Homo sapiens: one gene and its partners. Changing the gene in region 5 together with the main gene of any one other region gives a genetic interaction. Each region holds a gene or a part of one and is shown on either strand. Other genes may lie near its edges. The genes, in order: YKT6, PREX1, MTOR, ICMT, NRAS and GOLGA7.

Region 1 (4,880 bases), on a different chromosome or scaffold from region 5:
TAAGATTCAACAGTAAATCTCTGGTGATCAGAACTTGAACCAGCCTTCCTGGACTGGGAGTAGGAGTTCAGAAATCAGCCAGAGCAGCAGAGGGCAGAGCAGAGGCAGGAGTGGAACAAGGCCTCGGCCCGCATCGACTCCAACGGCGCCCAAGTGAACTGCCTCCAACCACCTGGGCCTGAGGCGCTCACCTTAGGCTCTTGCCGCACAAGGAATCATCCACCATGATTCAACAGTCTAAGAAAGACCCGTTCATAGTGGAGAGTGCCAGAAGCAGCAAGCTGCGACTGCTCTCTAGAGAGAACACCCAGGAGGCAGCAGGTGCTGGGTACTCACAGTTTTATAGAAGGCTTTAGACTGTGTTCCCAGCACCTCGGATTTGGACACCAAGTCATCTAGCTTCTCACCTCGCTCTAACAGAGACTCCATGGTGTTGTGCTGGACAAAAAAGAAAAGAGAATCCAGCTCTGTTCAGTACGTGCCCTGACATGAGCCCCTCATATTTCAGTCATGGGGGAAAGTGCCTTACCTGGGTTCCTCTCCAACACACACAAACTTCACCTCTAGGTGTCGAGACTCGGTCCAAGAATAGTTACTGTCCAAGTGGATGGAACAGAACCTGGTGACATTCCCGTGAAATCTAGAAGATCTAACTGGGATGTAGCAGACTTCCCAAAAAGCTGTCCCCAGCACAGGCTTAGATAACCAGCACTCCAGGAAAACTCATATATATATATACACACACATTTATATATACATTTGTGTGTGTGTGTGTGTGTGCACGCACATGTGCGTGTGCATGGAGCTTTGGAAAAAAGAGTAGCTGGGCACTATATGATTGTACTGGGTTGGAGAGTGACCCACACCGCACCCCCCAACCCCAACCGCATCCCAGAAATTAACATCCCCAGAATCTCTGAATGTGACCATATTTAGAAATAGGGTCTTGGCAGATGTAACTAGTTAGGAAGAGGTAATACTGGATTAGGGTGGCATCTAATTCCATGACTGATGTCCTGGTAAGAAACGGAAACACACACACAGAAGGTCACGTGACGGCAGAGGCAGAGCCTGAAGTGATGCACCTCTAATCCAAGGAATGCCAAGGATGGCCAGCAGCCACCAGAGGCTGGAGAGAGGCCTGGGACAGACACTCAGAGCCCCAAAAGACACCAGCCAGGCCCACAGAGCTATCTGTTAAAAGCAAATATTTGAGGGTTTCTGTTGACAGCAGCCACAGGAAACAAAAGGCGGTGGGAAATGGCTATTGAGCACTTGATGTGAGGCAAGTCCAAACTGAGCAGCGCTCTGAGTACAGACACACCAGATTTCAGATGCAAACTCACACATGCTTCATTAGTAAGTTTTATACTGAAAAAAAAACAAGTTTTATACCGATTACATGTTGGAAAAATTGTATTTGGATATACTGCGTTAAGTAAAATATATAATTAAATTAAATTCTACCTATTTTCCTTTTATCATTTTAAAATATGGCTCCTAGAAAATTCTAAGTTACACACATGCCCCAAATATATACCAGACAGCACTATGACAGAACATGTCCTGCCTTCTAAATGGGCTATGTCCTAAATGTCATCACTACAAACTCTGACTTAGGAAATGAAAACACTGACCCCATGGGAAGGGGTCTAGAGATGGAGACCTCACAAGAGCCAGCAGCTCTGCTGCCAGGGCCCTCAGGAAGCAGCAGCTCGCTTCTCTCCTCAGATGGCCACTGCTGCAGCAGCTAGATGCACACATGAAGCGCCATAGAACAAGGAGCCAGCAAGAATGTCCTTCATCCCTACACACAGCTGAGCGACTCAAATTTTTAACACAGAAAGTTAACTGATTCAGATATGCACACCAATCATCTAGATTTTACAACTGCAGCTAGATGAGGCTGGGTGAATAGGACTCATCCACTCCCCACCGTGGGGAGAGGAGAAACAGCGGGTGTCCCAGGTGTCATGGTACTCAGACTAGGACTTGAGCAACAGAAAGAGATGGCTTGAGGAGAAAACGGAGAAATGCCACCTAGGTGGTAAGAAAGCTCACAAGGTTTCAAAAGACACAGATACCATGAGACTTTCACATCTATCGTTCATTCCAAAGCCACGTTATTTGGAGTGCAGTCAGCACACCTGTGTTTGAAGCCCCTGGGATGCTTTTTATAAAATGCAGGTTCCCAGGCTCCATCGCAGGCCAACAACTCCAACCCCAGGAGACGCTGATGTACACACTAAAGCTATGCCTGTGTAAATGGTAAAGCTTTGTATGTGGGTTTCAATCCACTCCAGGTATCTATCAACTGCTGAGCATGGTATAAACTAGGCACTGTATCATGAGCAGGATGGAAAGATGTCCCAGTGCTCATACGCTGGTCAGGGAGACATGTAAACAAGCAGTGACAAAACTGTGACATCTGGTCAGAAAGGCCCAACCTTCAGGCGCCTGTGTGTGAGCTGGGCAAGAAAGGGTATAAGAGAGAACAGGGCCCAGTCAGGAGACTGTGAGTTAGTTTGCACTTTATCCTGGGGCGGATCTGAGAGCTGCTGAAGGGTTCTAAGTTGTGCAGATCAATGACTACTCTCTGGTGGACAGACTGGAGGTGAGCAGGAGGCAAGGGGACCACTTAGAGGCAAAGGCTGTAAGAGAAAAACCTGAGAAAAACAGATAGCTGCTTACATTCCACTTGTATGCAAAAATTTAAAAAAAAAGAGTTGAAGCAACAGTTACAAATCAGGAGATTTCAGCTCAAAATGCAGGGTTCTGGCTCTTTTCAAAGGGGCCTATGTGACAACCCTGGGCCCATATTCCAGAAGCTGCCCTGTGGTCAGTGCACGGTGCTTCAATCTGTTCACCTTCAATGCAAACGCTGCAAGGGGAGGCACCTGTGGGGTGTGGAGGCACCCGAAACCCTAACAAAGGCACCAGGGTGGGAATCCAGGTCTTCAGAAGCCAAACCCTAGGAACCCAGTAAATGGTCAGACAGGCAGTAGCCATGAGGAAGGGAGACTTGAGGGTTCCACTGGTTCCCAGCTTGGTCCCCTAGAAACAATGGGTGCCATTAACCAAGAGAAGGGTATAGGAAAGACAGTCTGATGCCCGGGGTGGGGGAAGGGGTGGGCAATCCCACTTGCTGGAGAGTGCCGTGGTTACTATTATATTAAAACGAGGATGGATCTGTGCATGCCTGGCCAGTGGAAATCGCACCCCCGCCTCAGTTCTTGGGCTTGCTCTCCATCTTCCTGCTTACCAGAATGATTTTGGTCTCATCTAGTTCGGCCTGCACTTTAGTCATGGGATCAGCTTCTCGTGGGTTCTAGGAAAGAGTGAAAAATAATAAAGTCAGGACTGGAGTGGCTACCTGCAAACAAAACCTAAAACTGAGGAAGCTGGACAAACTTTCACAGGTTAAAAACCACAGCCTGGGCCGGGCACAGTGGCTCACGCCTGTAATCCCAGCATTTTGGGAGGATGAGGCGGGTGGATCACCAGAGATCAAGAGTTCGAGACCAGCCTGACCAACATGGTGAAACCGTCTCTACTAAAAATACAAAAATTAGCCAGGCGTGGTGGCACATGCCTGTAATCCCAGCTACTCGGGAGGCTGAGGCAGGAGAATCGCTTGAACCCAGGAGGTGCAGGTTGAGTGAGCCGAGATTGCGCCACTGCACTCCAGCCTGGGAAACAGAGTGAGACTCCAACTCAAAAAACAAAAAACAAAAAAAAAAACCCACAGCCTGTTTAACATGTAACAGAAACCCAAAGCCTGCCTAGAGCTTGGGTTCCCCGGTCTGAACGTAGATTCTCTGTTTTCCAAACAGTAAGGCTTGAGAGAGGACACCAGCATCAGAAGCTGTCAGAAGTAATTAGACCAGAACTATCAGGGCAGTTGGCTTTTTCAGTTTCACATGGATTCTGGGCCACATGGTGTCTGCTGAAGCTTCCTTTAACCCTACCTGGTATCTACTGAGGTGACCATCCAGGGCTGGGTAATGGATTGTAGCAGGGGATCCTACTGGCCAGTCTATCCTGTCGACTTGCTTGGAGAATTCATCTAGTACCTGCAAGACAAAGGAGACTCAACAAGCCTCCCACTGTGCACTCACCAGTGGTCTCAATGACAGGGCTTCACCCCTGAGCACCTCACCCTGAATGAGGCTCCTTGGCCTTCACAGCCCAGGAAGGAGGAATGAGGGGGACATATAATGGCAACAGAGAAAATCTAGGCTAAAGTTCTTTCCAAATTTTTATCATTAAAACATATCCTAAATATTCTGAGAATCAAAAGTATGCCCAGCCCGAGATGAACCTCACTTGGGGAGTAATAAAGGTATTTGAATTTTAAACTACAGATTTCCAGAAAAAAGGGGCACTGGTCCTCTAATTTTCCAAAGCAATTTTTTAAAAAAGAGAATTAGGTCCCCTAGATTTAAGAAACCACCAGATTCCATGTGTTTGGAGGTATTTTGGTGCTCTGGGGTATAGGATGAAGCCTCTGACTTCAAAGAGTTAATATTAGTAATTAGCACCGTACGCAAAAAAATTTAAAGAATGCTTAGGTGCTAAGCTCTGTGGTGCAACTGACTGACATCAAGGTAGAGGGATGCAGCAACTGCAGGAGGCAATGGGGAGAGTGAAGGCATTCAAGAGGGAGACTCCTTGAGCAGAAGCACAGGGGGCGAGAACACAAGGCACAGCTGTCTCCGAGGGTCCCATCCCAGAGAATAGATGCTATGACTCAGTGGCCTAGACCCAGCTCACATGAGGGACAGCACCGGGGAGGAAACCCATACAGGGATGCCAAATTGTCTCTTGGGTTGCAGGGAAGGGGGCTGAAAAATGTGTTGACTTTGGACACATCATTTCAT
Region 2 (4,880 bases), on a different chromosome or scaffold from region 5:
GCCCCCACACGATCTGAGAGCACAGGTGGTAGTCAAAGGAGCTTTTAGCCCAGTGGTTCTCAACTGGGGGCTATTTTTCACACCCAACCACCTCTAGTGGATACCTGGAATATCTGGAGACATCTGTGGTTGTCACAACTGGGGAAGAGGGGTCCTACTGGCATCTGGTAGGTAGAGGCCAGCGATGCTGCTAAACATCTTACAATGCACAGGACAGCACCCCCACAGCAAAGAATGGTCCAGCCCCGTATGTCGACAGTGCTGAAGGCTGAGAGACTAGTGGGATTTGCTCCAGACCAACGCTAGGGCCAGAAATGACCCCGTGAAACCTCTTCAAGAGGGACTTTTGGCCGGGCATGGTGGCTCACGCCTATAATCCCAGCACTGTGGGAGGCCAAGGCGGGCAGAACACTTGAGGTCAGGAGTTCAATACCAGCCTGGTCAACATGGTGAAACCCTGTCTCTACTAAAAAAATACAAAAAGTAGCCGGGCATGGTGGCACGTGCCTGTAGTCCCAGCTATTCGGGAGGATGAGGCAAGAGAATCGCTTGAACCCGGGAGGCAGAGGTTGAAGTGAGCCAAGATCACGCCACTGCACTCCAGACTGGGCGACAGTACAAGACTCCATCTTAAAAAAAAACGGGGGGATTTTTGATCCTGGCTAAAACACAGATCCCCAGAAAAGGATGTGGGCCACCAAGCTCTCTTCCCAGGTATCTGGGGATGGAACTCTAACAAACTGAGTGGCTACTGCCCTTAACTGGTGCTCACCTCCCCTCTGGGGACGCAATTTATGTCACCTGCAAAACAAGGAGATTCAGACCGAATGACCCACCTGGCTTCTGTTCAAGATCTCCGAAACGCAGGGCAGGAATCAGCTCCGACCTGGCCCCATGTCTGGGGAATGATGCTGTGGGACACAGCACACAGGTTTGAGGGGCAGCCCACCCTATCACCCACCTCCCTCCAGTATTCTAGCCAGCATGCCTGTGTCTGTTGGAAAAAAAGAAAAGCCCCAAAAATCTGGAGAGGTCAGGTTCTCCTGCAGCCAGGCATGACCTGCTTCAAACACTTAAACTCTTGCAAAACCTTTAAGGGAGAGCGGCTGTGAAGCAAATAGGATGTGGGTTTCTTTATTAAAGGGAGTGGCCCCAAGCCCAACAGGTCTTCAGCTCTCTGGCCTGATAAAGGAGTATCTTTCTCTCCAAGAAAGGGGTGCCCTGAAGTCTCAAAAGCCAGAGACACCAACCCCATTCGCGTCTTCTTAAAGTGACAGTTAAATTGCTACCAGGGCAAACACCAGAATAAAAGTAGGTAGGCTTCCAGAAGGTTTGTCTGAAGAATGAGTTGTAGAATCCCCACAGGGTTGTCCTTCTTATAAGGACAACGACCTGTTGATGACTTCATTCTCGTGGCCCAGAACACTGCCCAGGATATACAGCAGATGCTCCATAAATACCTGCACACAGAGAAAAGCAGTCTCATATCTTCATGGTTTTATCTGTACAGAGCTCTCTGTCTGCCATACATTAAAAAAAATGTAACCCATCTAAATCCTGCTGACACTCAGTTTTTACCATCAAAAGATTTTCACTGACTTCCTGATGATGATGAGCCCAACACAAGGTGGCCTGTTCCAGGCTCTCCGGCATCTGAAAACTGAAATAAGGTGGACTTTTTGACTTAATTCTTGCCCACCTGGGCAGCCCAGAGGTCTCACAGGGGCAGTAATTTTGCTCATGAACACAGCCTCATTTTGGTGCAATTCAGGATAGTGGTGAAGAATGTGGGCCATGCAGCCGCATTACCTGGGTCCAAGTGCCAGTTCTGTCAGGCTGTGTGACCTTGGGAAACTGACTTGGCCTCTCTGTGTCTTTGTTTCATTTGTAAAACAGGAAGCATAAGAATACCTGCAACTTTTGAGTTAATGCTTAAGGAACTTATAAACAGGGCTTGCAAGTATATAAATATTAGCAAATTGTTACCATTATTACTGTTGCATTAATCTAATAACCATGTTGAAAATACAATTCTTCCTGTCGGCTTCTTAAAAAATATATTCGCATACATATGCATAATTTTATATGAAAAGGGTATTATAAACAGGATTTTACTTCCTTATCTTCCTGGTTGCCTTTCTGTAAAAGATACACATCCTTCCATCCTTTTCTCCAACCTAATGTCACCTTATACATATAACACACGTGTATATTATGGTTATTGTTTATTTTCCAAAAGAACTGTGTTACATATACCTCTCAGCATCCTACTTTTCATATGAGGACCACGTGAAAATCCCCCCAAGTTACTGGGGAGGTCCCTCTGCCTCAATGACTGTGAAATCAAAGACCTGCCCCCACCCCAACCACCCGTGGCATTTCTCCCTAGTGTGAGACTAGGAGTACAGAATCTTTTAAAACAGAAAAAAAAATAGTGACAACAAAAAACCACAGTTTCTTGTTTGGCAAGCGGAGCTCCAATGAGAAGAAAAACTTTTGTCTCCTCCCTCCAAAAAGCAGAACCACAGAAAGCATTCTGGGAGCTTTCTGCCCACAATCCCTGTTCCTCAGAGACTCCCATCCTGGTCGGTTCCGGGCAGACCCTCTGTGTCTCTATAGCTCTCTGTCCTCAGCCACGGGGAGACCTTCGAGGAGCTGCTGACCAACTCCCACCCACCGGCCTCTCTGCCCACCCACCCAGGCCCTCTCTTCTCTTTCGACCACTGCCCAGCTGACACACCCCATCATGGGAGTTACTGGCACCTGCCCCTGAGGTGCCTCCCCTTGGCAGGTGGGCCCAAGGTCTACTCAGCCTCCTCTAGGGGAGTGGGGGGCAAGCTTCACCACATCCCTGTGACGCAGGTGCTACACTGTGCCCGTTGGACAGATGTGGAAACTGAGGCACAGAGCAAGTCAGTGATCAGCCCAAGGTCACCTACAGTCCAAGTGGAAGAAGCCTGGATTTGAACACCAGCAGCATGACTCCAGAGCCTCACTCAACCCTCGTGCCATGAACAGACCCGGAGCCCAGAGCAAGAACTCGGCAGCCTGCCATTTCTATCCGTCCACAGTTCTTCCCATTCTGTGGAGAAAAGAATGGGAGTCACAGAGGGCAAGTAACAGGAGGAAGCGCAGGCGGAGGTGAAACATCACACAGACCTGGGTTCAAATCCCAGTTCTGCCACCTTAATAAATCATGTGCCAAGCCCTTCTTGGATCAGCCAAAGGCGGTCTATCAAGTGGCTGGGGACATGAGTTGTGGGGTCAGGCAGCCTAGGATCAAATCCTGGCAATGCTGTCCACCTGACCCAGAGCAGCTCACTTAGATTCACTTTGCCTCAGTTTCCTCACCTCTCAATGGGGATAAAAACAGCATCCCCTTCATAAAGAAAATTAAATGAGTTGACACATGCAAAGTGCTTAGAATGGCAAGTGATGAATCAAAGTCAGTTCCTGCACAGCAATGACTGTCATTGTTTTCATCATGACTAACGCTGCCCAGAGCACACGGGGAGTACCCCACATAGCCAGGGCCTCGAAATGATTCGAGCCAAGGTTCTGAGTCAAAACCCCAGGCACTGTTTCCCCCAAGACCGATCCAGCATCTCTGTGAAAGGGCTGTCCTTGCCTTTTCATGATTATTTAATAAACACACGCAAAACACCAAACTCAGAGGACTCCCTGGAGATGAGGGAGGGAGTGCAACCCAGTTCCTGAAGGAGATGGGGAAAGATGGGAAGATTCTCAAGGAACCACAAAGCCCTCGGCCTGGAACCAAACAAAACCACTGGTTCCTGTGGCCGGAGTTTAGGGTGTCAAAAGGAAACTCACTCAGAGCCCCCATCCTCCTCTCAGTGCTGACTTAACTCAGACCTCACTTCCTCCAGGAAGCCCTCTCTGATCACCCCTGCTCTCTGGATGCTGAAGTCCCACAACCCTAATTATCTGTATTATTTAATTTTCCTACAACAACAATAATAACCAATATTTATATACCTTACTGCCAGACACTGTTCTAAGTGCTTTACATCAATTTCTATAACTCACTTATCTTCTTTAAAAACCTATAAAATAGGACCTATTAACATCCCTCTTTTTACAAATAAGGCTCAAACAGGTTAAGGTGTTTGCCCAAGGTCACAAGTCCAAGGATTTAACCTCAAGCAGTCTGGCTCCAGAGCCTTGCACTTGGATTGTTTTTTTTAAACACCCATTTGGCCATCCTCCACTACACCGTCCTCTCCTTGAGGACAGAAGCCACACATGGCCCCTATCACGGGGGTTACTTTCCACGGTTTCCATGGGCCGATGGGACCTTCACACCAAGGACACACGGAGACCAGGGTGGTCCTTTAAGGCCTGCCTCTAACCACATGGAAATAAAAGCAGGGAGGGATTACCGTGCATTCTTCCAAGCCAGGAGACAGCAGGGAAAATCCCTTAGCAAATATAAAGGCTGAGAAGAGAGAGTGGGAAGACAGAAGAGAATCACAACCTGAGGCTGCCAGCCTTGCAACCATGGAAAGCCTTGGTAATTAGCAGTTCCTGAAGCTCTAAGCCCCAGGTTAGTTTTGAAAACGAAAATGCCTTGGGATGTTTAGGGGCCATTCCTGACGGGCCAAGATGAGAGAGGACTCCTGTGGCTCACAAACAACGTATGGCTGGTCAGGTTACACAATCCGTCTGTTTCTGGCACCAGCTTGGGGACACACAAAAGGCCCAGGCAGAAAGGAAGCCCGGATTCCCCGCTCCTTGTTTCACAGGTGGGGAAACTGAGGTCAGGACACGTAGCATGATTGGTCCAAGACACATGTCCAAGTCAGAACCAATTCATCTCAGAACTGACACATCAGATACAAAAAGAAAAATGTGATGAAGTC
Region 3 (4,639 bases), about 100 Mb from region 5:
GAAGATTTCATGGACACTTGTCACTTCCCCAATCAATACCCTTGTGATTTCCTATGCCTGTCTTTACTTTAATCTCTTAATCCCGTCATCTTCATAAGCTGATGAGGATGTATGTTGCCTCAGGACCCTGTGATGATTGCATTAACTGCACAAATTGTTTGTAGAGCATGTGTGTTTGAACAATATGAAATCTGGGCACCTTGAAAAAAGAACAGAATAACAGCAATGTTCAGGGAACGAGAGAGATAACCTTAAACTCTGACCGCCGGTGAGCTGGGCACAACAGAGCCATATTTCTCTTCTTTCAAAAGCAAATGGGAGAAATATCGCTAAATTATTTTTCTCAGCAAGGAACATCCCTGAGAAAGAGAATGCATCCCTGAGGGTAGGCCTCTGAAATGGCTGCTTCGGGGGCGGCCGTCTTTTATGGTGAAAGCTGTAGGGATGAAATAAGCCCCAGTCTCCCATAGCACTCCCAGGCTTATTAGGACGAGGAAATTCCCGCCTAATAAATTTTGGTCAGACTGGTTGTCTGCTCTCAAACCCTGTCTCCTGATAAGATGTTATCAATGACAAAGCGTGCCCAAAACTTCGTTAGCAATATTAATTTTGCCCCGGTCCTGTGATCTTGCCCTGCCTCCACTGCCTTGTGATATTCTATTACCTTGTGAAGCACGTGATCTCTGTGACCCACACCCTATTCGTACACTCCCTCCCCTTTTGAAAATCACTAATAAAAACTTGCTGGTTTTATGGCTCAGGGGGGCATCATGGAACCTGCCAACATGTGATGTCTCCTCTGGACACCCAGCTTTAAAATTTCTCTTTTGTACTCTGTCCCTTTTCTCAGACCGGCTGACACTTAGGGAATATAGAAAAGAACCTATGTGAAATATCGGGGGTGAATTTCCCCCAATATACAAATATTAGTTGGCGGTGGGGGTGCTCATCTGCAGTCCCAGCTAATTGGGAGGCTGAGGCGGGAAGATCACCTGAGCCCAGGGGGCCGAGGCTGCAGTGAGCCATGACTGTGCCACTGCAGTTCAGCCTGGGTGACAGAGCGAGACCCAGTCTCCAACAAAAACAAAAACAAAAAACACCACTCAGATACTACTCCGTTTTAAAACTTCACAGCATCAGGTTCATACTCCTTGCTGCTGAACTGAGGGAGGCCCCGGTCTGGCCCCGGCCCCGTACTGCTTTCCTGCCTCCTTTAGTTCCTATTATTTTCCTGTTACTCCCTTTATTCCCCACTGACCACTGAGCCAGACATGCTGAACTATGAGGTGCAGCCATAAGAAAATGCCAGTTTTGTATATTAAAAATGGTCCACGTACCTGTGATTTCAAATGGTCCAACTGATACTTGCCACTGCTATGGATACCTTGCTTTTACAGCAGTGCCTCACACTTCCTTTTCTGCTGAGAATGCCCCCCCCTTGGTTCATCTGACAGACTCCCACCCCTCTTTAAGACCCATGCCAAATGTCCCCCTTTCTATGGGGCTTTCCAGGCTCACCCGGTGGAATACACGCTCCTACCTGTGGCCCATACATGCCTCTTCTCAGCACTTGGCCGGGGTAAGTTCTGTTCACTTCAGTGGCATGCTGTCTCCACCTGTCTGGCCTGGGAACAGTCTGAGGAAAGGGACCATGTCACGTACACCCTTACGTCCTCTGTCATCCCTACTACAGAGTGTTTACTGAAGGCTGAGTGCTGAAGAGAGTAAATGCTTCCTTTTTGAACTGATCAAAATTATGACTAAAACGCCACTCATATACATATGTTTAAAATTCTGATGTCATTTATTGGCACAAAAATTATTCTGATACAACATGGTGTCTAGACATGGCTACACTTTATACTTTGTGCATTTAGTTGAGTATTTGTTCTGCTCATAATTTCCAATATGTACCAGACCTTCCCTGTGTTCAGCACCTCCATGACAGTATTTCTGTTTTCTGAGCCCTTGCTCTAAACAGAGTATTTTGACCACTGAAAACATCCCAGAACCCTGCTGCAGAAGGCCAGTGAGGGTGGTCCCACTGCACAGTGATCCCCTCTGTGCATCTGCTCAGCCGAGGCTGCCAGCGATCTGAATAAACCTCCCTACTAGCGGTCAGGTCTTGAATTGAAGCGTGTGAGTCGCAGCATCACTGGGTCTGATGGAAGACAGACCTTTTGTACTCATTTTGGCCTATCTTGCAAACATTTCTGCTGCTGTCCACAGACCAGTGAGGTCTTGGGATAGGTGGCAGGGGTGAGGTCAGCATCTTCTGTGTCTTTACAGTCTAGGATCCTAATCCATGTTCTCCACGACCTGAGGCTTCTTGGCTGTGCTGAGTTTGCTGTACCCATGTTGAGAGGAGCAACTAGGTCATTCTTCCATCAGCAAGTACTTATGATGAGTTCTCTTGTGAGTTAAGTCAAAACCCGTATTTCTAAAGTTATGGATCTTCTGTTCCCCAAAATGAATGGCTTGATTTACGTGGTATTACTATGTTTCACTGTCCTGGGAACCAAATCAAGCCTTGTGTTTCTGACAATATATTCTTCAACAGCAGCTAGAAAGTTGGTTCAAACCAACTTTTAATATACAGTAGTTCTTTTCATTTACATTTCAAAATATTTAACAAAGTCAAACTTTCTCACCATGGTTTCAGTTTAGTGGAAGCATTTACTAAAGTACAAAAGCCTCAGAAAAAACGTGATGGGCACATCTGGGCCTCCAGTTACCAGAAAGGGCACCTAAGAAGGCAGAAAGAAAAGGAATATTTTAATAATTTGAGCTTCTTCAAAGGTTTACACAGATAACTTGAAAATGAAAAGGCCAAGGTCTGACAACCCTAGGGTATTCCCTGAGCTCTCCCACAGCTAATTGCATGGGACACACTCATCATTTCCAGTCAAGGCTAATGCCCACCGAGGTCCCGCAAGGACACTTCCCCAGCGCCCGCTCTCTCAAGTTTCTGCCTTCAAGCATGCCTTGGGCAATTAATCAAAGCACACCCCAGAGTGGCCCTTGAGGTTAGACTCCCAGATCATAAATCTGTCTTTTTATCTCCTTCTCTCTGTCACTGCTCTAGCTTTTTCTTTCCTTCGCCCTTCCTGTATCTCTGCACTGGACTGACAGCAAAACCCAAAAGGAACCCCTCACAAACAAACAAGCCTTGCCTATTCTCCTGAACCACTTATCTTAATGTAATTTTAATTTTAGTGTTTGCCTTCCAAGTATGCATCCATATTTCTCAGTTTCTTTTTTTATAACAATGGGCACATGCAGTAAATATGAATTTTTAAAGAGATCTGAGCTCTAACTGCCCTTTACAGATACCTCACCAAATCTCTTTTTGCTACTCTGGCTTTGGGGCCTAGGCTTGGGACCTGATTGCTTATTTTAACAAAGTCACTTTGAGAGCCCCACTCACCAGCCAATATAGCACTGGCAGAGGTTTTCATGGGATGTCGCTTGTTTGATGAGCAGCTCAACTTGCGTTGGAACATCCAAAGTGTCATCATGAGAGAAGTCCCGACCTAGCACAGGAGGAACAAAAACATTTCACTCTCTTCCTGGCAATCGATGCACTTCTTGTTCCCTGTGGGCTTAACTGTCTATGCCAACAGCTTATCGTCAGACATGAAGATGAAGGATACCATCATAGTTGGATTTGAAAAGTTTGGCCAGGTGCGGTGGCTCACGCCTGTAATCCCAGCACTTTAGGAGGCTGAGGCAGGCAGATCACCTGAGGTCAGGAGTTCAACACCAGCCTGGCCAACATGGTGAAACCCTGTCTTTACTAAAAATACAAAATTAGCCGAGTGTGGTGGCACATGCCTGTAGTCCCAGCTACTTGGGAGCCTGAGGCAGGAGAATCACTTGAACCTGGAAGGTGGAGGTTGCAGTGGGCCAAGATCGCACCACTGCACTCCAGCCTGGGTGACAGAGCAAGACCCTGTCTCAAAAAAAAAAAAAAAAAAGAAAAGAAAAAAAGAAAAATTCGGCCGGGTGCGGTGGGTGAATCACTTGAGGTCAGGAGTTTGAGACCAGCCTGCCCAACATGGTGAAACCCCATCTCTACTAAAAACACAAAAAATTAGCTGGGCGTGCACCTGTAATCCCAGCTACTCGGGAGGCTGAGGCAGGAGAATTGTTTGAACCTGGGAGGCAGAGGTTGCAGTGAGCCAAGATGGAGCCACTGAACTCCAGACTGGGCAATAAGAGCAAAACTGTCTCAAACAAACAAAAAAAAGACATGATTAAAAAACACTTCTCTGAATTTGGCTGATTTTGGACCCAAAAGAAATTTATTCACCTCCTGAGTTAAATGAGATTAAACTAACATTAAGTACTGTTATCAGTCATCAGAAAGAAGAATCAGAGACAATGTTTAACTGATGACCTCAAAGACACTCTTTGTCAGCTGCATGGTGCCAAAGCTCGTCACTAACACCACTGGACATGGGGCTGACCACCACTCAGAGAGGAAAGTGTGCTCAGATTTTATGTCCCTTTTAAGTAAACACATGACACACTCACCAGTGAGCTTATCTCGAACCCTGTTAATAATCTGGATAGCTTTCTTATTTAGGGCCTCTGGTTTCACCAAACCGTCTCCAACTGGAATACACAAAAGTAGAAA
Region 4 (4,880 bases), about 110 Mb from region 5:
GGATTACAGGCATGAGCCACCATGCCCGGCCAGCCAAGCTGGTTTCTAATTCCTGGCCTCAAGCAATCCTCCTGCTCTGGTCTCCCAAAGCCACTGTGCCTAGCCAAATAGTAATTTTAAAAAAGAAATATGCGGGTTGGATGCAGTGGCTCACGCCTGTAATCCCAGCACTTTGGGAGGCTGAAGCGGGTGGATCATCTGAGGTCAGGAGTTTGAGAACCGCCTGGCCAACACAGTGAAACCCCTACTAAACCTACTAAAAATACAAAAAATTAGCTGGGCGAGGTAGTGCACAACTGTAATCCCAGCTACTCGCGGGGGCTGAGGCAGGAGACTCACTTGAACCCGGGAGGTGGAGGTTGCAGTGAGCCAAGATCGCACCACTGCACTCCAGCCTGGGCGACAAAGTGAGACTCTGTCTCAAAAAAAAAAAAGAAAGAAAAAGAAATACATGTGGTGGCTCACGCCTGTAATCCCAGCACTTTGAGAGGCCGAGGCGGGTAGATCACTCAACCGCAGGAGTTCGAGGCCAGCCTAGGCAACATGGAAAAACCCCGTCTCTACAAAAATACAAAAATTAGCCAGGGGCTGGGCATGGTGGCTCATGTCTGTAATCCCAACGCTTTGGGAGGCCAAGGCAGGCAGATCACCTGAGGTTGGGAGTTCGAGAACAGCCTGACCAACATGGAGAAACCCCGTCTCTACTAAAAATACAAAATTAGCCGGGTATGGTGGCGCATGCCTGTAATCCCAGCTACTCAGGAGGCTGAGGCAGGAGAATCGCTTGAACCCGGGAGGCAGAGGTTGCAGTGAGCTGAGATCACATGATTGCACTCCAGCCTGGGCAACAAGAGTGAAACTCCATCTCAAAAAAATAAATTAATTAAAAAATACAAAAATTAGCCAGGTGTGATGACACACATCTGTAGTTTCAGCTACTTAGAAGGCTGAGGCAGGAGAATCACTCAAACCCGGGAGGCGGAGGTTGCAATGAGCCGAGATTGTGACACCGCACTCCAGCCTGGGCAGATACTTAGGAGACTAAGGTGGGAGGATCACTTGAGCCCAAGAGGTAGAGGCTGCAGTAAACCATGATCATGCCAATGCACTATAGCCTGGGTGAGAGACCCTGCCTCAAAACAAAACAAAAAACCATACATAAATAAAAAAAATACACACACACACACACACACACACACACACACACACACACATAGAGCAGGTGCAGTGGCTCACACCTATAATCCTTACACTTCTTTTTCTTTTTTTCTTTTTGAGACAGATTCTTGCTGTGTCACCCTGGCTGGAGTGCAGTGGCGTGATCTCAGCTCACTGCAACCTCTGCCTCCCAGGTTCAAGCAAATATTGTGCCTCAGTCTCTCGACTAGCTGGAATTATAAGTAAGAACCACCATGCCTGGCCTAATCCCAGCACTTTAGAAGGCCAAGGTAGGAGGATGGCTTGAGCCCAGGAGTTCAAGACCAGCATGGGCAACAAAGGAGGAACCATCTCTTTTTTTTTTGAGACAGAGTCTCACTCCATCACCCAGGCTGGAGTGCAGTGGCACAATCTCAGCTCACTGCAACCTCCACCTCCCAGGTTCAAGCGGTTCTCAGGTCTCAGCCTCCCGAGTAGCTGAGACTATAGGCATGTGCCACCAGGCCCAACTAATTTTTGTATTTTTAATAGAGATGGGGTTTTGCCATGTTGGCTAGGCTTGTCTCAAACTCCTGATGTCAAGTGACCCACCCACTTCAGCCTCTCAAAGTGCTGGGATTACAGGCAACCGTCCAGGAGAACCACCTCTACAAAAAATTTAAAAATTAGCCGGACGTGGTGGCAACACCTGTAATGTATTCCAGCTACTTGGGAGGCTGAGGTAGGAGGATCACTTGAGCTCAGGAGGTCAAGGCTGCAGTGAGCCATGATCAGAACACTGCACTCCAGGCTGGGCAACACAGCAAGATCCTGTCTTTAAAAAAAAAAAAAAAAAAAAAAGCTGGGCACGGTGGCTCATGCCTATAATCCCAGCACTTTGGGAGGCCGAGGCGGGCAGATCATGAGGTCAGGAGATCAAGACCATCCTGGCTAACACAGTCAAACCTCATCTCTACTAAAAATACAAACAATTAGCCGGGTGTGGTGGCGGGCGCCTGTAGTCCCAGCTACTCAGGAGGCTGAAGCAAGAGAATCGCTTGAACCTGGGAGGCAGAGGTTGCAGTGACCTGAGATCATGCCACTGCACTCCAGCCTGGGCAACAGGGCAACAGAGTGAGACTCCATCTCAAAAAGGAAAAAAAAAAAAAAAAGGCCAGGCACTGTAGCTCAAGCCTGTAATCCCAGCACTTTGAGAGGCCCAGGAAGGCAGACTGCTTGAGCTCAGTAGTTCAAGATGGCTCTGGGCAACTCGAGAAACCCTGTCTCTACAAAAAAAATACGAAAAGTAGTCAGGCATGGTGGTTCGTGCCTACAGTTCCAGCTACTTGGGAGGCAGAGGTTGCAGTGAACCAAGATCGCACCACTGCACTCTGGCCTGGTCAACAGAGCAAGACTAGGTCTCAAAAAAAAAAAAGAAAGAAAGAAAAGAAAAGAAACGAAACAAGGCCTTTTCTTCAGCCTGAGACAGAACAAACCTCCATGGCTCACACAGCTCACTAACACATGGCCTCGGCCCCATTAATACCTATTTCTGATGAAAACTAGCCAAGCTGCCACATGAGTGACAGAGGGCACTCCCTTCCCTAAGCCCCATCTCTGTCCTCACCCCCTCTGGGGTGCTTCAGATCTATTAATAGGTTGAAGGGGCAGAGAAAGGGAGAGGCACAATGGCTCATGCCTATAATGCTAGCACTTTGCGAGGCTGAGGTGGGAGGATCACTTAAGGCCAAGAGTTTGAGACCTGCCCAGGCAACACAGTAAGACCCTGTCTCTACCAAAAAAAAAAAAAGAAAAAAGAAAACAAACAAACAGAGGCAGAAACAGGATGAAGGGATACAGCAGGTAGCTAACAGCACCAAGAATCACCAAGGACTTACGCACCCAGGTTCTGGGCACATAGTGAAAAGCATTAAGGACTACATTAGTTCTCTTGACTTTTATTAAATTATCACTTGAAACGCGCCAAGAAGAACATGTACCTATTATTTAAAGGAGACCAACAACCTCATGAATACACTGAAAACCACTAATTGTATATTTTGAAATGGTGACTTTTATGCTACGTGAATATCACGTTTAAAATGTTACTTAAAAAAAAAAAAAAGAAAAGCAGTGTCATATTTAATATTATACCTGAGTTCCAATACTCCAGTAAAACCACCCGACGTAAGAAGGATGCCGAAACCAAGCGTACACTCCACTGGTCACCAGAGTATGTGTATCTGATTTTTCATTCTGTACCACGTGGTTGAAATTGGAGCCAGCTGTAAACATGGCCGCCTTCCTCAGACATTCTCCGAAGACCACCATCAGCAGCCCTGTGACACTGAGCCAGGTAATCTGCTTCAGTTCTGTGGGAGAGAGACATCAACGACACACGGGGAGTGAAAACACTGGCCTGAGCTCCCCTTCGCACTGCTTAAAATTAACCTATTTTCCCGAAGACAGAAACAGAAAATGTGCTGCTGGGCAATCAGCATTTGTCATCACATTAAAATTTCATAAGAAAACACATTCCCCTAAGTTATGCTGTTCATCAATTTACTTTAAAACACCAATAAGCACAATGAAAGCATCATGGTAAAGAGATGCTCTCCTGCTACAGCTGATGGGCTCTCTGGTTCACGACCCCCGGCCACATGCTCAGTCCTTCATCTGGGGACAAGTATAGCTAAGAGAAGCAAAAAAGGGTCCAAGGTTTCCACCCTGAATCCCAGGAGCCACATGTATTTCATTTCATTGGCTGTGAGACATTCAATTTCAGAGTGCATTCCACATACGGAGGCTTTTATTTTTTGAGACGGAGTTTCACTCTCATTGCCCAGGCTGGAGTGCAATGGCACAATCTCAGCTCACTGCAACCTCCATCTCCTGGGTTCAAGCAATTCTCCTGCCTCAGCCTCCCAAGTAGCTAGAATTACAGGCATGCACTACCAGGCCCGGCTAATTTTGTATTTTTCGTAGAGACGGGGTTTTACCATGCTGGTCAGGCTGGTTTCAAACTCCTGACCTCATGTGATCCACCCACCTCGGCCTCCCAAAGTGCTGGGATTAAAGGCGTGAGCCACTGCACCCGACCTTGTTAGTAAACTCTTTTTTTTTTTTTGAGATGGGAGTCTCGCTCTGTCACCCAGGCTGGAGTGCAGTGGCGCGATCACGGCTCACTGCAACCTCCGCCTCCCGGATTCAAGCAGTTCTCCTGCCTCAGCCTCCCGAGTAGCTGGGATTACAGGCATGTGCCACTACGCCTGGCTTTTTTGTATTTTTAGTAGAGACGGGGTTTCACCATATTGGCCAGGCTGGTCTCGAACTCCTGACCTTGTGATCCACCCGCCTCGACCTCCCAAAGTGCTGGGATTACAGGCGTTCGCCACCGTGCCCGGCCAGTAAACTCTTACATGAAACGTCTAAATATCATCTGATTATAAAATTAGAATCACAACTACTCAAGGTTGGGGCTTCAAATTAGATGGTGCACTATGTGATGCAAACTTTAAAGCAAAAGGTCAGCACGTCCTCGAGTCAATATCCAGAGGCAGAATTCATGAGCGGAGCTCATCCTTTATAAATAGCTTAGTGAGGATAGAGGTCTGCGGAAAATCGCTTGGGGGAGATTAGACCTGAAAGGTGAATCAATGTCACTGTCCTCAGCCTGAATGGGAGCCACCCTTTTCCCCTCCAGAGGGGGACATAAGGCACACGAACCTGGCCAAAAGATATTT
Region 5 (4,880 bases):
GCAAAGGAAAAGGGTAATGTGAGAAACACGGAACAAAACTACATTAAACTAAAGACTCCATTCAGGAGGCTTAAGCCATAAACGGGCTGGTGTTGACAGAGAAATAACTAATGTTTATAAATATTTTTAGTCAAGGATCTTCCCAAGAAATATTTGTGGATGTTAATGCAGGAGTAAACATGCCATAACAGAATATTAGTAAGTTCATTTTGGGTTTAAACAAGCGTTAAGAAAAAGAACACTACTAAAAATGCCTAACAACAGGCTGGGCGTGGTGGCTCACACCTGTAATCCCAGCACTCTGGGAGGCCCAGGTGGGAGGATTGCTTGAGGCCAGGAGTTCGAGACCAGCCTGGGCAACATGGTAAAACCCTGTCTCTACTAAAAGTACAAAAATTAGCCGGGCATGATGATGTGCCCGTAGTCCCAGCTACTTGGGAGGCTGAGGCAGGAGAATCACTTGAACCCAAGAGACAGAGGCTGCAGTGAGCTGAGATCACACCACTGCACTCCAGCTTAGAAGATAGAGTGAGACTCTGCCTAAAAAAAAATAAAAAATAAAAAAATAAAAATGAAAAAAATGCATAACAACAAAGAATATGAATATGGATCACATCTCTACCAGAGTTAATCAACTGATGCAAACTCTTGCACAAATGCTGAAAGCTGTACCATACCTGTCTGGTCTTGGCTGAGGTTTCAATGAATGGAATCCCGTAACTCTTGGCCAGTTCGTGGGCTTGTTTTGTATCAACTGTCCTTGTTGGCAAATCACACTTGTTTCCCACTAGCACCATAGGTACATCATCCGAGTCTTTTACTCGCTTAATCTGCTCCCTAAAAACGGGAATATATTATCAGAACATAAGAAAAACAAGATTAGGCTGGGTACAGTGGCTCATGCCTGCAATCTCAGCACTTTGGGAGGCTGAGGAGGGCAGACTGCTTGAACCCAGGAGTTTGAGATTAGCCTGGGCAACATGGCAAAACCCGGTCTCTACAAAAAAATACAAAGATTAGGCTGGGTGCAGTGGCTCATGCCTGTATTCCCAGCACTTTGGGAGGTTGAGGTGGGCAGATCACAAGGTCAGGAGTTGAAGACCAGCCTGGCCAATATGGTGAAACCCCATCTCTACTAAAAATACAAAAATTAGCCAGGTGTGGTGGCAGGCGCCTATAGTCCCAGCTACTCGGGAAGCTGAGGCAGGAGAATCGCTTGAACCTGGGAGGCGAAGATTGCAGTGAGCCAAGATCACGCCACTACACTCTAGCCTGGGCGACAGAGTGAGACTCCATCCCCCCCAACCCCCCCCAAAAAATATATATAAAATATATAAAAATAAATATATATTATATATATTATATATAAATATATATTTATATATAATTTATAATATATAAATATATATAATTTACACATATAAATATATATTTATATATATTTATAAATAAAAAATATATATACAATATATATTATAGCTGGGTGTGGTGGCGCATGCCTGTAGTCCCAGCTAATTGGGAGACTGAGGTGGGAGGATCACCTGGGTCCAGAAAGGTCAAGGCTGCAGTGAGCCATAATTGTTCCACTGCACTCCAGCCTGGGCAACAGGAAAAAAGAAAGAAAAGAAAGGGAAGAAAGAAAAGAAAAGAGAAAAGAAAAAGAGAAAGAAAGTGAGAGCGAGAGAAAGAGAGAGCGAGAGAGAGACAAGATTTCAGGAAGGAATAAATGGCTAGGGCAAAAAAGAAACTAGCAAATTTTATGTAGCCCTATTAACTTGTAGTATTTTTGCTTTTTTCTACCACTTAGAGAAGACATTGTATACTAAGGAGACTGCTTTAGACTTGTTGCAGCAGCCATCAGGAAGCCATAAGTACAAGCTCACCTTCTAATGGGAGTGGATGGGTATTTTATCCTGATACATGACCTAGTGAGGCTCCTGGATTCTCCAAAGAGCTTGGCTCTGGATTTAACTGGCAACTAGAAATCACCCTTTAGATTAAGGTCTAAAGTATAAAAAGTGAAGCTCACTGCTGCTAAATAACTAGGTGTGACAGTATTTAATGGAAGGCAGTCTATCACTTTTCAAGATGGGTGGTGCTCAAACATTTTCTTCAAATAAATTGTAGATGAAGCTGGGCATGGTGACTCCCGCCTATAGTCTTAGCACTCTAGGAGATTGAGGTGGGAGGATCACTTGACCTAGGAGTCCGAGACCAGCCTGGGCAACATGGTGAAACCTTGCTTCTACAAAAAATACAAAAATTAGCTGGGCATGGTGGCACATGTGCCTGTGGTTCCAGCTACTCAGGAAGCTGAGGTGGGAGGATCCCTTGATCCCTGAGAGGTTGAACCCTGAGAGTGTCATGCCACCGCACTCTGGCTTGGGCAACAGAGGGAGACTCCATCTCTAAAAAACTAAAACAGGCCGGGCACGGTGGTTCACACCTGTAATCCCAGCCCTCTGGGAGGCCGAGGCGGGTGGATCACCTGAGGTCAGGAGTTTGAAACCAGCCCGGCCAACATGGTGAAACCCCAAGTCTACTAAAAATACAAAAAAAATTAGTCAGGCATGGTGGTGGACGCCTGTAATTCCAGCTACTCGGGAAGCTGAGGCAGGAGAATCTCTCGAACCCGGGAGGCGGAGGTTGCAGTGAGCCGCGATCGCACCACCGTACTCCATCCAGCTTGGGCAACCAGAGCAAAACTCCGTCTCAAAAAAAAAAAAACAAACAAACAAAAAAAACAAACCTAAAACAAAACATTGTATCTGGAAGCCCAAGCGATAAAATAGAAAACATAAGAACTGCTCTTAGTAAAGGGAGGCTGAAGCATCTAGAACTCCTGACAGCACCCCTTTCAATGACATGTAAGGCACACCACACAGCACACCTGGGAAACAATTGCTTTAGATTGTCTTGACCAACACAATCCAACAGTACTTTATGTGATGATGGAAATGGTCTATATCTGTACTGTTCAACATGGTACCTACTAGTGGCTATTGAGCATTTGGTAGTCAAGGAACTAATTTTTAAATTTTATTTAATCTTAATTAACTGTAAATAACCACATACTGCACAGTACTGTTTTAGTCTCTACCCCTGGATTACCCACAAAGTCATGTATCTGAACTACATTCCACTGGCTATTTGCAAAACTGTGCTTGATGGTAATAGCCTACATTAAGGGATAAGACAGCCTAAAGTACCTGGACCATGTCACTGTCAGGTTACTACTGATTTTTACATTAAACAAGCCTCTTTGAGGATCCATGGGAAAATTTCCTTCTAGTCCGAGCAACTTAACGGCTTTCAGCATACAGATACTGAATCTTTCAGCTGGCTACTTTCCTTTTCACAACAGTGACCAAATTTGTAGTCCACCTTTAGAAAGCCACTGGAACTTCATGCACAATCACAGAATATGCTCACTCCTAAATTTGTTTATTTTACCCTTATTTTTTTGGTCTCACTTAAGCCTATTTTTCATTAATCTTATCTTGCTCTACTATATGCATTTTCATAAGATGTTTTAAATACTCTTTGGTTTGAGCTAAGGCATATAGAAAAATGAATAAATTTCTTGTAAGAAAGAAGAAAAATGACTTCTAGAAATTCAAAAAACATTTATTAGATGCATGCCAAGTGTGGGCATTTTATTAAGTACTGCTATTACTTTTAGACAAAAAAAAAATGGGAAGTACAACAGGTTAGGAAAAGAACACTTGAATTCAGTGTTGGACCAATCTGCTTTTGAGAGCAGACATCTTCACATGGATAGAAAATAAGCCAAGACTCAAGCCTTTAGGCAGAACACTTAAGTAGCATTTACTGTGTGCCAGGCACTATTCTGAGTGATTTGCGTATTTATTAAAACTGTAATCTTCACAACTCTATGAGGTAGGTATTATTATTTCCATATTATAGGTTAGGAAAGCCACATAGCCCCTGAGTCACGTCGCTAATAAACAGAGCTAGGTTTCAATCCAGGCAGAGTTCTCATTCTTAACCATTATATTATTCTGTTTAAGAACACTGTGCTAAGAAAAAGGAGCTTTGGGTTTTTGGTCCTGGCTCTGCTACTAATAACAATCCTGACTCCAAAACCTAACAAACGACATTCTGAACTCTGTTTCTGATTCTGCAAAATAAGAATATTGTACTAGAATTTTTATGGTCCAATCTAGCTTTGAAACTTTATGGTTCTATGGACAAAGTCTATCTTTATGTTCCCTTGCTTTGTTTTCATCTTTATGGACTTCCTATTTGCTTACTCCTATCATTTTATTTTTTATTTTTTTTGGAGACAGAATCTTGCTCTGTTGATTAGGCTGGAGTGCAGCAGTGCAGTGGAGTGAGCATGCCTCGACCTCCTGAGCTCACGTGATCCTCCCACCTCTGCCTCCCGAGTAGCTGCCACCATGTGTGACTAATTTTTTTATTTTTATTTTTGTAGAGACAGGGTCTTGCTCTGTTGCCCAGGCTGGTCTCCAACTCCTGGGCTGAAAGTGATCCTCCCGCCTTGGCCTCCCAAAGCACTGACATTCCAGGTGTGAGCCACTGTGCCTGGCCTATCTTTTCCATTACATACTGAAAGATGTTTCTTGGAGATGTTTTCCTCTCTGAAATTCCTTCGTGATCTCTAATTACAACAACTCTGGTTCCAAGTCATTCCCAGTAGCAAGCTTCACTTATGTATTATCAAACTTTATAGTAACAGTATATTATGTAAAATAAATTCCAGTATTAACTTTCAGTAATTACCCTAGATTCTCAATGTCAAACAACCTAAAACCAACTCTTCCCATAATTAAAAAGCTCTATCTTCCCTAGTGTGGTAACCTCATTTCCCCATAAAGATTCAGAACACAAAGATCATC
Region 6 (4,880 bases), on a different chromosome or scaffold from region 5:
CTTGCCTTCTTCATGATTTTAAGAGATTTTTGTGAAAACAAATGTAGCATTACCTTCTCATAATGAGTTTCCATGCATAGGAAGATGGTATATGCTGTTAAACAAGCCAAACAACCTTCGAGATATGACTGGCCGCCGAGCTTCTCTGCTTCTGCATAAAGGTTATTTAGAGTTCGAACTGTTTCTTCAAACTGCTGCCTATCAATCTGTAGAGAAGAAAATATTTAAAAATTAAGTTTTGGAAAAAAAAAATCAACTAATGCATGCTATCATTAATTTATCTTGTTTTCTCACCATTCTTAGTTGACAATTTTTTTGGTGACTAAATCTGGGCCTAAGTTACCAAAACTGCTTAATTTGTTTAATTTTATCCCTCTTATAAATACTGGATAGCTTCAAGGCTCAATAAGGTACTTCTTTATTCTTTCTACTAAATTTCAAGTAACTTTAGGCTCTATTCCTCTTTCCATTCATTTAGTTTCACACTTACTGAGCGCCTACTATCAGATACTATGAAAAATCTCAAGATAAAGCACTGTCTCAATCCTTAAGAGTTTAATTATGCAAGCAGAACAGGCAATGTAAACATAAAAATGCAGTAAGCTGGCCAGGTGCGGTGGCTCATGCCTGTAATCCCAGCACTTTGGGAGGCTGAGGTGGGCGGATCACGAGGTCAGGAGATGGAGACCATCCTGGCTAACATGGTGAAACCCCGTCTCTACTAAAAATACCAAAAAAAATTAGCCGGGCATGGTGGCGGGTGCCTATAGCCCCAGCTACTGGGGAGGCTGAGGCAGGAGAATGGCGTGAACCCGGGAGGTGGAGCTTGCAGTGAGCCGAGACTGCGCCACTGCACTCCAGCCTGGGTGACAGAGCGAGACTCCGTCTCAAAAAAAAAAAAAAAAAAAAAGCAATAAACTGACAGGGTACTATCATATAGGCAAATATAAAGCCTAGTGGGGACACAAAAGCAAGGAGAAATTCCCTTTATCTGGGAAGGGCAGGTAATCTTAAATTGAGTAACTAAAGACTGGAATTTACTAGGCAAAAAAAAAAAAAATGGCATTTTAGCAGAAGGATCAAAAGGCGTAGGTTCTATATTCTGTTTACTCAGCCTATCTCTTTTGAAGCAATTATCTTGTTACTAAATAAGGTAAAATTTGTTAAGGTAAAATCTCAAGCTAATAAACAATTTTTCACATTAAGTCATTCTTATTACCTCTTTCTATTTGGTGACACCATTATCTTAAATTTACACTAATACTACCACAGGTTGAGCATCCCTGATCTTAAATTCTGAAGTCAGAAAGGCTCCAAAATCTGAAACTTTTGAGCACTGACATGATACCACAAGTGGGAAATTCCAAACCCGACCTCATGTGAGGGGTCACAGTCAAAATGCAGGCGCACAACACATAGTTTATTCAGTGTCCCCAAGAGAAAAAGACCCTTCCAGCCCCCATCAGCTGCCATGTATCTTTTCCATGCACAGCCAGATTCTCCCATGCAAGCGTGCTCACAAAGGGTGATAAGATGGTTCAGTGTACACACACTTTGTCTCATAAAGTCATTTAAAATATTGTATAAAATTACCTTCAGGTTATATGTATAAGGTGGATATAAAACATAATGAATTTCGTGTTTAGACTTGGATCCCATTCCCAAGATATCTCATTAGTATAAACAAATATTTCAAAATCTAAAAAAACCCCAAAAACTGAAATACTTCTGGTTCCACATATTTCACATAAGAAAGAACCTGTACTGTCATCCATTGTTTCACTCAATCATCTGCTTTTACTTTATTCTTCCAATATTACTTTACTGTCTTCTAATAGTACTTTGTATAACAGATTTCAAATTTTGCTACTTCATCCCAGGACTTTCAAGGCCCATTAGGAGAGCAATCATCCAATACTGCCATTCTTATCTGTCTGCACTCTAGGCCTTCTCTCGCATAAGGATTCCCTTATTTCTAAAATTAATAACTACTTACGTATGAATTCTCTCTTTTATGAAGTCCTTATTTAAAAGACTTTTTTGTTTGGCTTTTTTTTTTTCTCCTTTCCTGTCTCTGTGAACCTATTAAATCTTTCTTTATAATAGAAACCGACTCAGAAAAAAAAAAATCAGGCTGGCGTGGTGGCTCATTCCTGTAATCCCAGCACTTGGGAAGTTGAGCTGGGTGGATCACTTGAGCTCAGGAGTTTGAGACCAGCCTGGGCAACATGGTGAAACTCTGTCTCTACTAAAAATGCAAAAATTAGCCAGGCGTGGTGGTGCATGCCTATAGTCCTAGCTACTCAGGAGGCTGAGGTGGGAGGATTGCTGGAGCCTGGGAAGTGGAGGTTGCAGTGAACTGAGATCTCACCACTGCACTCCAGTCTGGGTGACAGAGTGAGACCCTGTCTCAAAAAAAGAAAGAAAGAAAAAAAACCCTCAACATACAGTATGAGCCCTACTATTCACTATTCCCAAGAATGTAATCTTTTTTTTTTTTTTTTTTTTTTTTGAGACAGAGTCTCACTCTGTCACCCTGGCTGGAGTGCAGTGGCGCAATCTTGGCTCACTGTAACCTCTGGTCCCAGGATCAAGTGATTCTCGTGTCTCAGCCTCCCGAGTAGCTGGGATTACAGGCGTGCACCACCATTCCCTACTAATTTTTGTATTTTTAGTAGAGACGAGGTTTTGCCATGTTGCCAGGCTGGTCTCAGGCTCCTAGCCTCATGTGATCCACCCCCCTGGCCTCCCAAAGAGCCACCTGCACCTGGCCTCAAGAACATAATCTTTTAAAGTGTAAAACAATTCATGACCATCCTTAAGCTATGACAACTCTTTAAGTTAGAAGCAGTTGTAGTCATTGTTTTGTCCGTTGTGTGGAAAATGTGAGGAGTCAATGGGCTAGTGGCATGCATGAATTTAATGCAAACTTTAAAGTGGTGTTGGCTCTACCCATTTTTCAAAAGGAGTTACTTTAAATTTCCAGGAATATTAGAGATTTGGACAAAGGCTAGGTGGGTCAAGACGGCCTTTAAACGCAGGGGCAGTGTTTCTTCACTGAGCTACCCCTTGTAGATGTGGTGTCAAGGCTGGTCATCTGGGAAACTGTGAGTTCTCATTCACGAAAACAGACTGAGGAGAGCTCAGCAAACAAAAATGGTAAGCTGTTACGTTCACCTAATTATGCCTACGTTAATGCCTTCAGTTTGTCCACCGATAAGTCTACAAAAGTCTAAATAATTCCAATCACATTTGATGTGCCTATGTTATAAGTCATTGAATTATTTATATTTCTTTACAATACAATTCAAAACCATGGGATTCAACCCAGAAACATCTTATTTCTTTCATATCAGAATTACTGTTTATCCCGGAAACCCTAATTATTATTATTTTTTAAGTTTAGTGACAGAGTATCGCTATGTTGCCCAGACTGGTCTTGAACTCCTGGCCCCAAGGGATACTCCTACCTCAACCCCCAGAGCAGCTGGGATTACTTGGGTGCAAACCACCATGCCCAGCCAGAAACACTTAATTCTTATGCGTTATTCCGAGATTACAATGCCCTATAGGTTAGAGGTAAATCATACGTCAGTTAAACAAACAAACAAAAAAAGGTTAATAAAAAAAGAAAAAGAAAGGATAAATGGTTAAAGAAAAGTAAATGCCAACAAGTTTTTGAAAGGTTATTTTAAAAAAGGGAAATAAAGGGTAAAAATCACAGAAGGCATCAATAAAGGCAAACGACAAACTTCACAAGAAAGGGCTCAAGAGAACAAATGTTGGCATTTGTATCTTACTACCTTTAGGCTATGAATAACAGTGGCCAGTGTTCTCCCTTAGGTTCCTGGACACTGATACAGGAGCTCTATCAAAATTTAGATATATGAGAAGTCACAGCCAAATAAAATTTGGACCCACAAACATCAAAAATCAGAATGGAAAGAGAAATCAGGCTTATTTTCCCAGAATTACTGTGAACTACACAGTAGAAAGCATGGTGAAGCATGCAGTGATCACGTATCAAGGGTGGCAGGTCAAAGGTAATTACTAACCAGATGGGGAGACATATTTTTAAAGGGAAAAAATGCCTCAATTACAGTTCACTCATTCTTCTACCCAGACCAAGGGTAACTAAGATATCTGTATTTTAAGGCTAATGAGAATAAAGTTTCCTTTAAGGAATTGTTCTGGCAACAAATCGCTTAAGCATCAAAGTATTACATTCTAAAAGGCAGCAGAGAAAATGAACTTGTTAACAGACAGAACCTATCCTACTCCCAAATTAAAGGGCACAAATGTGTGTGTATTTTTAAAAAATGCTTTAAAATAATACAAAACACTTGCATATTAGTCACTTTCTCTATTATGTTGCCAAGTGTGATGTTCTCACAAAAGGAAAATCAGCTCCAATAGCAGAGCAATCAGTAAAATTTCTAGGGTAAGTAGTAGAGAAACAGAAACCTTTCAATTTTTCATCAAAGCAAGGAAAGTTTAAACCTGTAATTTAAATTTAATCTCAACACACATACACAGACAATCAAAGCTTTTCTAGTGGTTTAAAGCATAAGCTAGTGTTTTAACCCAAACATTTAAAAAGAAAAAAGAAATTCAAAGGCACAATTGAAGAGTGCCATGTAACATTCCATATAGTACTCAGTACCACAAGCAGTTCTGGGCTATACAGAGTCAAAGAGGTAAAAGGACTCCAGAATTTAGAAACATCAATTTCCTGACAAGAATCAGTGGAGCACAGTAACTACATTGTGCTTTTGCACTTAGATTACAAAATAAAGGCTCTGCCACACACAGAGTGGAAGGCTAATGTCTGATTCTGTGTATACACATTTAGCTCAAATATATGAGGTGTAAGTGTTGCT

What was found.
Region 1: changes in NRAS (region 5) and YKT6 together harm fitness more than expected from each alone (negative genetic interaction), as found in Homo sapiens cells (one study listed by BioGRID).
Region 2: changes in NRAS (region 5) and PREX1 are lethal when combined (synthetic lethality), as found in Homo sapiens cells (one large-scale study listed by BioGRID).
Region 3: changes in NRAS (region 5) and MTOR together harm fitness more than expected from each alone (negative genetic interaction), as found in Homo sapiens cells (one study listed by BioGRID).
Region 4: changes in NRAS (region 5) and ICMT are lethal when combined (synthetic lethality), as found in Homo sapiens cells (one large-scale study listed by BioGRID).
Region 6: changes in NRAS (region 5) and GOLGA7 are lethal when combined (synthetic lethality), as found in Homo sapiens cells (one large-scale study listed by BioGRID).

Annotation. Positions count from the first base shown.
Region 1 is NC_000007.14:44,206,581-44,211,460, reverse strand, and holds part of YKT6 (synaptobrevin homolog YKT6), read right to left. Parts: intron 4,074-4,880; coding exon 3,969-4,073; intron 3,329-3,968; coding exon 3,263-3,328; intron 439-3,262; coding exon 337-438; intron 1-336. UniProt on the Homo sapiens protein: Vesicular soluble NSF attachment protein receptor (v-SNARE) mediating vesicle docking and fusion to a specific acceptor cellular compartment. Functions in endoplasmic reticulum to Golgi transport; as part of a SNARE complex composed of GOSR1, GOSR2 and STX5.
Region 2 is NC_000020.11:48,820,570-48,825,449, forward strand, and holds part of PREX1 (phosphatidylinositol 3,4,5-trisphosphate-dependent Rac exchanger 1 protein), read right to left. Parts: intron 1,076-4,880; exon of another isoform or gene 837-1,075; intron 1-836.
Region 3 is NC_000001.11:11,104,754-11,109,392, forward strand, and holds the end of MTOR (serine/threonine-protein kinase mTOR), read right to left. Parts: intron 4,618-4,639; coding exon 4,537-4,617; intron 3,534-4,536; coding exon 3,428-3,533; intron 2,748-3,427; coding exon 2,732-2,747; 3' UTR 1,782-2,731; downstream 1-1,781. UniProt on the Homo sapiens protein: Serine/threonine protein kinase which is a central regulator of cellular metabolism, growth and survival in response to hormones, growth factors, nutrients, energy and stress signals.
Region 4 is NC_000001.11:6,228,611-6,233,490, forward strand, and holds part of ICMT (protein-S-isoprenylcysteine O-methyltransferase), read right to left. Parts: coding exon 4,864-4,880; intron 3,510-4,863; coding exon 3,292-3,509; intron 1-3,291. UniProt on the Homo sapiens protein: Catalyzes the post-translational methylation of isoprenylated C-terminal cysteine residues.
Region 5 is NC_000001.11:114,708,892-114,713,771, forward strand, and holds part of NRAS (GTPase NRas), read right to left. Parts: intron 838-4,880; coding exon 678-837; intron 1-677. UniProt on the Homo sapiens protein: Ras proteins bind GDP/GTP and possess intrinsic GTPase activity.
Region 6 is NC_000008.11:41,492,835-41,497,714, reverse strand, and holds part of GOLGA7 (golgin subfamily A member 7), read right to left. Parts: intron 207-4,880; coding exon 54-206; intron 1-53. UniProt on the Homo sapiens protein: May be involved in protein transport from Golgi to cell surface. The ZDHHC9-GOLGA7 complex is a palmitoyltransferase specific for HRAS and NRAS.